Linked DNA regions of Homo sapiens: region 2 is linked to region 1. The links come from fine-mapping of genetic effects on gene expression. Tissue or cell type: lymphoblastoid cells. Region 1 holds a variant in brackets; the other region holds the start of a gene. All regions are shown on one strand. Distances are from middle to middle.

Region 1 (6,034 bases):
GGTTTCCTCAGATCTTTTTGCTCTGCCTGGAGAGTAAGAATTACCCAGTTATCTACCAAGCAACAGATACTGAGAGCTTCCATATCCAGCATAACATGTTAGGCTCTACATTAGGGATTTATATAGATCTTTAGACCTCTGGTGAAGCTGGTATGAAGCAAGTATAAATATATTAATTGTGTCTGCATCATGCTAATGGACTTTGCTACATTTTTGTGGGATCTATGGGCCAGACAGCATCTAACCATGTCTGATACTACTGTGTCACAGCCTACAACGTGAGGCTGGGATATATGTATGTATATATGTATATGAATGTGTTGCATGTATGGTATACATTTATACCCCTTTTTAGTAACACAACTATATGTAGAAAGATGAGACTTTAAATTGAGACTTAGACTGTATTCTCCTGGTTGTTCAGTCATGTGTTGACAACCAGAAGGAAATGAAAGTGCATCTCTTCCCAGGTTCTCCAAATAGAGTCTTAGAAATTAGAAAATTTTGTTGCTAAAGAGTATAAGGAAAGAAAGATTGAGAAGTACAGCTTTGAGTTTTTAAAACTTAATCAGAGAAAGTTTTAAAAATTCCTAGGGAACTTTATAAGTAAAATTTTAAATAACTAATGGAGTAATAATTTTCATTGTTTTGAGTAAAGACGAATTTTGACAGATTAGTTTTGCTGGTAGAAATCATCACTATTAACTTCATTTATGATCTGGTCTTTCTTTATTAAATAAACTTAGAAAAAATTGAAAAGGAAAGATTTAATGTTGTCTCTTCTGTCCTTAGTAAGAATACCTATGCCAGTCAGGCATTTTAGGTGACCCTTTCCGCCACATTAGAAATGTCTCTTGGATGAGGCAAATCAGGTAAATAGTTGAAGCCTTATACTGTGGGGCATCTGCCATGCTGCTGGGTGACAAGTAAAGGAGCAGGTGCTAGGCAAGACCTCAGCCTCAAACATGTGTACACTCTGCTTGGAGATCTGAGATTCCCAGAGAGCAGCATAGTATAATAATCCAGGCTCCAGAGCTGGACATTCTGGGTTAAACCCTACTCTCCGCTGCCAACTCTGATCTTGGGCAAGTCATTTAACCTCTCTGCTTCCTAATGCTTATTTATAAAGTGGAGATAATTGTTTCTACTGATATAAGATATAAGTGAGTTAATATATCTAAAGTGTTTAGAATGGTATGTAACATATTCTGAACACTATTGTATTATTATCATCAACACTGGGATCACTTCTTTTTACATGCACCACTGTCCTTTTGTTTTGGATTCTTTTTCCAAGGCTATTTTTAAAACTTCTTACTAAAGTGTAATAACAAATGTTCGTATAACTTTAGTATAATACTGTGAATTTATTCAAATTGAATCACCTAGGGAATCAGTACTGAGATCAAGACACAGCGTATTATCACAGTACCCTTCTCCTCTTGTCCCCTTTTCCTACTTGGCTCACACCCAAAGGTAACCACTTAACCATTATCCTGTCTTGTAACAGTGTAGATTAGTTTTGTCAAGGCTGTGTATCTTTTTTTTAAAAACCTGGGTTTGCCTGAATAAATTATAAGTGTATATATAAGTGAGGCAGCTATACCTTTAAAAAAATCTTAATTTTCTTTTAGGTATATTGGATCCTTTTATATTAGTGTTTCTTGGTTTCTCTTTGGCCACACTTGAATATTTTCCAGAAGATCTGCTAAAGGCAATTTTTAACATCAAATTCTTAGCTAGATTGGATTCTCAACTTGAAAGTATGTATCTATCTTTTAATTTATTTAATTATCTGTTGTACTTTATATCCAAGTCTCAGGTCTATCTATACTGAAGAATTTTAATGTTAATAACTTTTTTCTGTTTCTAATAGTATTCATGCTTATTGTAGAAATTTGGAAAACACAGGAATAAAATAGAAAATAAAAAATTACCCATCTTACTAACAAGTAAAACTACCACTTTTAATGTTTTGGAGTATTTCTTTTTTGTCTTTCTCCTTCTCCTATGTGAATGATTATATATCTGTGTTTTTTTGTTTTGTTTTGAGACAGGGTCTCACTCTGTTGCCCAGGCTGGAGTGCAGTGGTGCAGTCATAGCTCACTGAAGCCTTGGACTCCAGGATCAAGTGATCCTCCCACCTCAGCCTTCCAAGTAGCTGGGACCACAGGCGTGTGTCACCATGCCCAGCTAATTTTTTTTTTTTAAGAGCTGGGATCTCACTGTATTGCCCAGGCTGGTCTCAAACTCTTGAGCTCAAGTGATTCTCCCTCCTTGGCCTCCCAGATGCTGCGATTATAGGTGTGAGCCCCCACACCCAGCCTGTATTTAATTTTAATTTGTTAAATTTTTTATTTTTATATTTTGAGACAGAGTTTTGCTATGTTGCCCAGGCTGGTCTCTAACTCCTGGCCTCAAGTGATCCTCTTGCCTTGGCCTCCCAAAGTGTTGGGATTACAGGCATGAGCCACTGTACCCAGTCCCTATAAGACTTATTTTATTTTACATTTCTTTCTTTTTCTTTTTCTTTTTTTTTTTGAGATGGAGTCTTGCTCTGTTTCCCAGGCTGGAGTGCAGTGGCTCAATCTTAGCTCACTGCAACCTCCACCTTCCCATTTCAAGTGATTGATCCTCCTGCTTCAGCCTCTCGAGTAGCGGGGATTATAAGTATGTGCCACCATGCCCGGCTAATTTTTCTGTTTTCAGTAGAGACGAGGTTTCACCATGTTGGCCAGGTTGGTGTTGAACTCCTGACCTCAAGTGATCTGCCCACCTTGGCCTCACAAAGTGGTAGGATTACAGGCATGAGCCCCCACACCTGGCCCCTATATGAATTTTAAAACAAAATTTGGATTATTTATATATTCACTTTTATATGCTGCCTTTTTCCATCTAACTATATTTTGAGCAATTTTCCATATTATTAAATATTTTTTGATGTCTTTTTTTATTGGCTACATAATATCCTGTTACATGGATATAATAAAATTTGTCACAGATTGTTTCCAATTCCTCATCATTGTAAGTAATGATTTGTTATACATGAATCATTGTTTCCTTAGGATAAAATCCTAAGTGTGGAATATTAGGTGAATGAAAAATCTTGGGAGTATTTTTTTTTTTTTTTTTTT[TTTG/G]AGACGGAGTTTTGCTCTTGTTGCCCAGGCTGGAGTGCAATGGCATGATCTTGGTTACCCAAAACCCCACCTTCTGGATTCAAGCGATTCTCCTGCCTTGGCCTCCTGAGTAGCTGGGATTACAGGCATGCACCACCATGCCTGGCTAATTTTGTACCTTTAGTATAGACGGGGTTTCTCCATGTTGGTCAGGCTGGTCTTGAACTCCCGACCTCAGGTGATCCGCCCACCTCAGCCTCCCAAAGTGTTGGGATTACAGGCATGAGCCACCGTGCCCTGCTGGGAGTATTTTTTAAATGTACTTTTAACGTTCATGATTAATGAGAACAGTGCAGGAGTTGGTCCTAATCATGTCACTGAATGTAATAATTTAAAAATATAAAGCATACATTTGTAAATTAGAAATGTAAACAGTTCTAAATACTGTTAGAATAAAAGCATCTACTAATAGTGGGGATAAATGAATGTGAAAAAAATGGGTTGTCTTTCCTAGGTCTCAGCTATCAAAATTCATTAGTATTTTATTAATTTCAGTTTTATCTCCATCTCGAAGTGCAAGAGTCCAGTTTCATCTTATGGAGTTAAATAGATCAGTCTGCTTGGAATGCCCTGAGTTTCAGATTCCATGGTTTCATGACCGCTTCTGTCAACAATATAATAAAGGTTTGAGTTTTCTTTTAGTCAGATAGCAAAGTTTGATTCTAAAGTAAATTATTAGGTAGTACATTGTTAATCTTGTTATACTTAAACATGACACGAGCCTTCCCAAGAGTGCCATGACCTGTTTAATATTTTATATGAGATATTGTAGGTGAAACATTATAAGAATTTCTTCATATTTGGGACATAACCCTCCTAGTTGAGAGCAAAGAACTTGTATTGAATTTAGTGTCATTATATAAGACACTACATTGAAGCTCTTATTGAAATTATTAATCTTTATTTTTCAGTTTGTAGAACTGGGATGATTTTCATTAAAAAACTGATTAAGTCCGGGCGCGGTGGCTCACACCTGTAATCCCAGCACTTTGGGAGGCTGAAAGGCGGGCAGATCACCTGAGGTCAGGAGTTCGAGACCAGCCTGACCAACATGGAGAAACCCCATCTCTAACAAAAATACAAAATTAGCTGGGCGTGGTGGCACATGCCTGTAATCCCAGCTACTTGGGAGGCTGAGGCAGGAGAATTGCTTGAACTGGGGAGGCAGAGGTTGCAGTGAGCTGAGATCGCGCCGTTGCATTCCAGCCTGGGCAACAAGAGCGAAAACTCCGTCTCAAAGGAAAAAAAAAAAGAAAAAAAAGATTAAGTAGACTAATTATTTATTTTTTTATAAAGGTATTGGTGGCATGGATGGAACACAACAGCAGATTTTTAAAATGTTAGCAGAGGTACTAGGAGGAATCAATTGTGTAAAAGCCTCGGTTCTTACGCCTTATTACCACAAAGTAGGTAAGTTATTGGGTAGGTTATTAGTTACTTTCAGAAAATCAAACTAATTTGAATAGAATCATCTTATCAGTTGGAATTTTTTAAAGTTTTTTGAATTTTTTTCAAGTTGTTATTATTATTAAAATTTTCAAACGGAGATAGAAAGAGCAATAGAATAAATCCTCAAGTTCCCGTGGCCCAGTGTTGATAACCAAGAGCGTTTTCTATTCTTTAGAAAAAAAAAAAAAAAAATTAAGGTCAGTCCTCCACCAATTCTAAGTAAAACCCAGATTCAGATTCACTGAACATTTCTGGATCTTCAAAAGATTCTGTCCTCTCCATTCAGTGTGTGAAAATAAGGGAAATGACTCTTTAATTTCTATTTCATTGTTTTAAGTTCATCTGAAAAACTAAGTTGGTCTATCAGCCTGGATAAAGATTTCCAAAGATACTGTGCTTGATGCTAACCTGATTAATCTTGTTTCTCAACTGGTCTAGTTGTAGAATGCATTCTGATTGAATTGTGGATCACATAAAGCTGGTGGACTAGCTTACGTTGATGGCAATATAAAATTTTCAAAGATATTGCCACATTCAAGTGGTGATCTTAAATGAAAAAGATAAAATTTCAAGATAATTAACATAAACTTTCTAAATTTAGGTTTAGAAAACCTCTGCATATACAGGATATTTAAAAGGATTATAAACTTGGTATAAACTAACAGTGTAAATGGTAGCCAAAAATCAAATACTATTTAAACTATATTGTTAATAATAACAAAAAAGTTGGTAATCCCATTGTATTCTATTTTTTAGACACCTTAATATATATATATATATTTTTTGCATGTTGTCCTTTTTAAGAGACAGTGACAATTAGGGTCTAGAAACAAAGGAGGACAGATAGTGAAGGATCTTGTCTAATCATGTCGTAGACAGAACTAGAGAGGACTAGGATTGCATGGATTTCAATCCTTGAGCAAGTTCTTCTGAACCTTGTTAACTTCTTCATCAGTGAAATGGGGATAATAATGCCTACTTGATAGGATTAACTGAGATATTGCATGTAAAGCATTTAACACTATCCTTGGAACATAGTAAGTGCTCAATGAATTTATTTTTATTTTAATTTTTTTATAGAGACAGGGTCTCACTATGTTGCTGGTCTCAAACTCCTGGGCTCAAGCGATCCTCCTGCCTCAGCTTAGCCTCCCAAAGTGTTGGGATTACAGGTGTGAGCCACTGTGCCCAGCCCAATAAATCTTACTTGAAAAAAAAAAAAAGGATGTTTAGTCTGAAAAATAGAAGTCTTATGGGGACCATAATGTTTTAAAATGTTTGAAGGATTGTTAAGTAGAAGAACTAGATATCTCTATCTCAAAGATGAACAAAATGGTAAAAATGAAAGGAAGCAGACTTTAACTTGGTATAATGAGAATTATTGACTGCTTTCTGAAGAAGTAATGTT
Region 2 (5,016 bases), 190 kb before region 1:
CCACTTACCTTTAATCATGTTTGCAATAGGAATCCATTTCTCTTTTAAAGGATCATAGAACTCAGCCTCTTCTGCTGGAGCCCCTTTTCTGTAACCACCTAAAGCATAGACACAGCCACCCAAGGTGACTGCACAGTGGTAATACCTGGCATTGAGCATTGGCAAACCTTCTGTCCATTCATCACTTTCACTGTTATAGATCCACACTGTGTCAAGAGCTTCTATGTTATCCGTCCTGTAGCCCCCAGTTACATAAATGTTGGGTCCTAAACATGTAACACCATAGCTCTCCCTGGTATAATCTGGTATTTCTGCTCCCTGAATCCAAACATTTGTCAAAGGATCCCATATGTGAACCTCTGATAAAGGATGCCAGTAATAGCCTCCAATTATATACATTGTGGCTGTGGACCTCTGGGAAATCTCTTTATGCATGGGATTCAAGGCATTGTATATTAGGGAGCGGATCTTATTTTCGGTGAGCAGGCAGCTTCTTTGAAGGCCTAAGGCTGTTTTTAAGTACACTGGATCTATATCAATGTTGATATAGCTCAGTAGATTATAGAGGCATTCAATTCGATTTTCTACATCATGAGCAGTCCACTTAATAACTGGCTCTATGATAGCTTCTTCTTTCCAAACACTGAGATTCTTTCTGGACAAGATAAAGAGAAACTTTTCAAGGCTGATTTCCAGAAATTCTTCTTGTTGCCACACTTCCTTAAACTTTGAACATAGAATTCTTCGAGATTCCTTCTCTAGTTCTGGACACACATGAAATTCTGCAAAGGAGTGCATTCCAATACAATTATCAATATCCAAGTGCCTTACCAAAAACCGCTCACAAGCCTTCTTTACTGAAAGGAACTGTAGCAGATCCGCTGCCTCAAGCAGGCTTTGAACATTTCTTTTAGTTATTTCAATTTGGGAAGTGTATGCATAATTTACAAGGCCTTCCAGAATATCATGGTGGATGCCAGAGAGTTTTATTTTATTTTTAAATTTTTCTTTCATGTCAGCTGTGAACATTGCCTTAAAATAATTGCTGCAAGCAGCTAAAACGGCTCGGTGACAATGGAAAATTATGCCTGAAGGACACTGAAGAGTAATATCAGTAAATAATCCATCCAAGTAAAATGTTCTGAATGCATCCAGAAAATCCACTGGATGTGTTGAATCCTTGAAAAGATAAATATAATCTTCTTGTCCTTTTAGAGCCATGGCTGCAATAAATATGAAATAACAAATGTGTTTTCAATGTTGCACATTCTCTCAAATAATCAACGCTAAATAACTTGACTATCATCGGATATACTCCAAAACTGGACTAAGTTCAGCATCTAAATAATAAATGCAAAATGTGGATGGACTGTTTGATCATTTATATGGTGGTCAATTTAAATTCAGGGTAGCTCGGAGCTTGAAATGAGGCTCCTGGATTTTTCAGTAGTCCTTTTGAGAGTACTGATTTGCTATTCCATTCACCGCAATCTACCCTGGCCTGGCGTTCGGAGATGAGATCCCACACTAGGCAAGGCAAGTGTCCGAGGGTCACCCCACTCGAGGCCGGACCTCAGCTGTCTCGGCTCGGCCCCAATTCAACCTTTTCCCCAAGCTCGTCTCCCTTTCAAATCACATCGAAATGCCAAGAAAGGGATGATGGAAATATAAATGGACAAGAAGAGGTCTCGGAAAAGGGAAATCCCGAGCCCTTTCGCTTAAGGAAGGAGAGAAAGGAAGGCAGCTCGGCGCAGCCCTTGCAGCCCTCGCCCCCTCCCCCGCGCCCGCCGCAGGGGTTTCCGCGCGCCCCGCGCCTGGGCCCCGGCCCACGTTCCCGCCCGGAGACCGCCCCGCCCCGGGGCCAGGAGCGGGGCTGGACTCGAGGGCGCCGCGTGCCGCCCGCGGGCCCGGTGCCCGCGTCCCTCTGCCCGGCGCTCCGCGCAGGTGTGGGAAGGACGCCGCAGGCAGCCCCAGCGCAACGCGTTCGGCCCGGCCCGGCGCCCGCGCGGCCATTGTCTGCGCTCCTCTCCCGCGCGGCCTCGCTGCCCGCGCCCGGCCCCGCTGCCCGCGCCCGGCCCCGCTCCCCGCGCCCGGCCCCGCTCGCTCCCAGCAGGCCGGCCTCGGGCTGCGGGTCCACACCGCACCTACCTCCCGCCGGGGCTCGGGACGCGGCGCTGGCCCGCGGGCTAGTAGCGAGCGGGAGCGGGGACGCCTCCGGCCCCTCTGACCATCTTTGGAAGAGGCGCTCGGAAGCCGCCAGCTAGTGCCGCTCCACCCCACAAGCAGCTCCTATTTTGGTGTCCCGGCGGCTCCCCCGCCTCCACCCGAACAGCCCCCCGCACGGTCTGGGCGCGAGGCCACTCGCGGGAACTCCCCCGTCGCCGGGCCGTGCGGCGAGCGGGGCGGGGCGTGCAGGCGTGAGCACGGCTCGGCCCCTCCCCAGCGGCGCCCCCCACAGCAGGTGGGACTGCTTCCCCAGGAGACAGCGCGCGCCGCCGCCTTCCCCTTCCTTGGCTCGCTCTCTGTCCCGCGCGCTCTCTCACACCCGGTCGAGCGTCTTCTCTTAGATAAACTCTGAGTCCTGAATTATTAATAACACCATATATGAGTGTGTGTGTGTGTGTGTGTGTGTGCGCGCGCGCGCGTGTGCATGTGTGTACACTCCCCTCCCTCAGTAGGCTTCGCCAGCCCAGACTCAATCGTGAGGACAGAGAAGGGGGAAAGAGTGGAGAGAATGGGGCACAACTAAAGGTCAGGGATTGGAGGCGCCGTTGAAATGCCAGAAGTAGCCGGCCTTTCCCACAAACGCCATCCCACCCCCAGCAAAGCACTCAGGAGGGCGCCTTGGTGCTGGTGAGCACATCAGGGGTTAAGCTGAAGCTTTGAGAGAAACTTTGGGCAGCCGGGGCCAAGGCGAAGTCCAGGCGAAGTCCAGTCGTGCTAAGATTCAGGTTATTGTATTTAGAGCATAGCAGCTGGAAGGAGCAGCCTTTCTGGTGACGGCCACTCTAGTCACAGATGTCTATGTGGTACACAAAGTTCATTTTCTTGTTCCAACTAAAGCCAGTATCAAATATTTTTGTATATCATTCATTCATTCATTCGCAAGATTTTATTAAGTGCTTCTAGTGCCTGATAGGGATAGACACTAGTAGTGATAAGAGTGTTGACAGATGGTCCCTAGCTCACAGGGACCTTCACCACCACCAGAGGACCATGTGTTTCCCAGAGTATGGTCTCAGAAACGCAATATACATGAATGGCCAGATAGTATGTGACAACAGAACTCTGAACCACATAAGAAGCCCAGGAAGCCAGACCACAACCTTGGTAGCAGCTGAACCAGAACAGTCAGGAAGTAGTCAACGACTGGCAATTTCCCTATTTTTTTTCTTTTTTGAGACAGGGTCTTGCTATGTTGCCCAGCCTGGAATGTAGTCGCACGATCTTAGCTCACTGCAGCCTCGATCTCCTGGTCTCAAGAGATCCTCTGCCTCAACCTCCCAAGTACCTACGACTACAGATGTGCAATTTTTGAAAAATTTTAAATATTTTTTCATGACAGGGTCTCACTATGTTGCCCAGGCTGGTCTCAAACTCCTGGACTCAAGCGATCTTCCTGCCTGGGACTTCCAAAGTGCAACTTCCCTATTTTTACCCCTAGTTCCACCTCTGCACCAACCAGAGAAAGCCAAATATGTTCCGCAAACCCATCACATAAAATACCCCCGCTTCTAGTAGCCCACCTGCAGCTTTCCCATGCCAACAACTTCCAATCAGAGCATACCGGGGGCTTTTCTTCACTTCTATAAAGCTTTCCCACTCGTCTGCCCCACCTTTGAGCCTCTGACAAAGTGATGGTGAGTGGGACTCCCTTCTACAGCAAACTCTGAATAAATAGCATCTGTTGGTTCTCCTGTGGGTGGGTTTTAGTTTAATTCCACAAGTCAGATCATCTTAATTGAATTATGTAAGATGCTGGTTATGCAGCCCCCACAACTACCACACCCCACGCACAGACGTCTGCGGGGTGGAGACCTAGGGATCTGCATTCTAATCAAGGGCAGCAGGTGATTCTTATGGACAAATAAGAGAATGTGTTGGACCCAAAAGGAAGAAGGATGAAAGTTTAACATCCCAACATCTGGTAAACAGTATAGTTAGAAAAGGAAAGCATATGAGATTTAGTTTCGGGCTTAAGGCTCATCTCTGCCACTTATCCAACATATAGCCTCTCACAAATTACTAAACTTCTCTGATCCTTCGTCTTCAGATCTGTAAAACACAGACAACATGGATACTTTCTCAACCTAACCTAAGGTTATTGGAAAGACAAATTAATAATGAAGCACTTAGGACTTGATATATAAATGTTAGCTACTATAATGAAAGAATATTTACACTTAATTCTGCATCACAACCTTAATTTGGAAATTAGCATCTTCTTAACATTTCTTCAGAAATTATGAACTTCATAGTTAATAGTAATTATAGCTTGCCCTTCATAACTGATAGTGATGCTGTTGTCACTGTTGCCATTCAAGGACACAATTGTGACTGATTGAAGGAGACTTCTCTCCATTTTTGTCACTGAAGTGTAGAGATGGCTGTTTTTGCAGCTATAATTACTGTTTGCCAAGTTTGATGTATAAAAAAATATAGGCTCCATCTAACTTGGAGTAAGGGCTTCTGGAATCATAACTACATGTAATAATAAATGATTCATGAATAATAGAATTCACTATATTCTCATTTATGCAGTTATTTCAGATGGCTGCATGAACCAACTAAAACTCTTGCTTTCATTTCGTGATGTTCCCTGGTTGTGAATTACTACTTAAAAGTGTATATCAGTGTATATTACATATTAGACTATTATACTGCTTCACTTTGCTAAGAGAAGAGCAGGTCCTGAAGGGTATTGCCTGGCATAGTTCCTCTTTACCATGTGCTTATCAAAGAGACCATTGCAAATGCTGATAGATTTGATGCATTCAGAAACATATAATTAGCATT

Direction of the effects. Positions count from the first base shown, and alleles are read on the strand shown. Sizes are in standard deviations (SD) of each study's normalised expression.
In carriers of allele TTTG in region 1, the expression in lymphoblastoid cells of the gene that starts at base 2,404 in region 2 tends to be higher than with G alone (large effect, 1.5 SD a copy in GEUVADIS).

Evidence for each region. PIP is the estimated chance that this variant, and not a neighbour inherited with it, causes the effect.
Region 2: it holds the start of KLHL23, and the variant in region 1 is fine-mapped to the expression of KLHL23 in lymphoblastoid cells (GEUVADIS, PIP 0.91).

Annotation. Positions count from the first base shown.
Region 1 is chr2:169,535,780-169,541,813 of GRCh38, reverse strand. FASTKD1 (FAST kinase domains 1) reads left to right here. Exons shown (of 15, transcript NM_024622.6): 10 at 1,635-1,763; 11 at 3,673-3,801; 12 at 4,474-4,587. Among named protein-coding and RNA genes, the nearest start is that of KLHL41, 29 kb to the right of the region's middle. RefSeq lists a silencer at 4,226-4,374. The variant TTTG/G (reference allele first, on the strand shown) is at 3,136.
Region 2 is chr2:169,731,220-169,736,235 of GRCh38, reverse strand. KLHL23 (kelch like family member 23) reads right to left here and starts at 2,404. Exons shown (of 4, transcript NM_144711.6): 1 at 2,149-2,404; 2 at 9-1,223. The coding sequence starts at 1,221. All of the region lies in intron 3 of PHOSPHO2-KLHL23 (PHOSPHO2-KLHL23 readthrough), which reads right to left. RefSeq lists silencers at 1,714-1,893, 2,004-2,073, 2,094-2,533.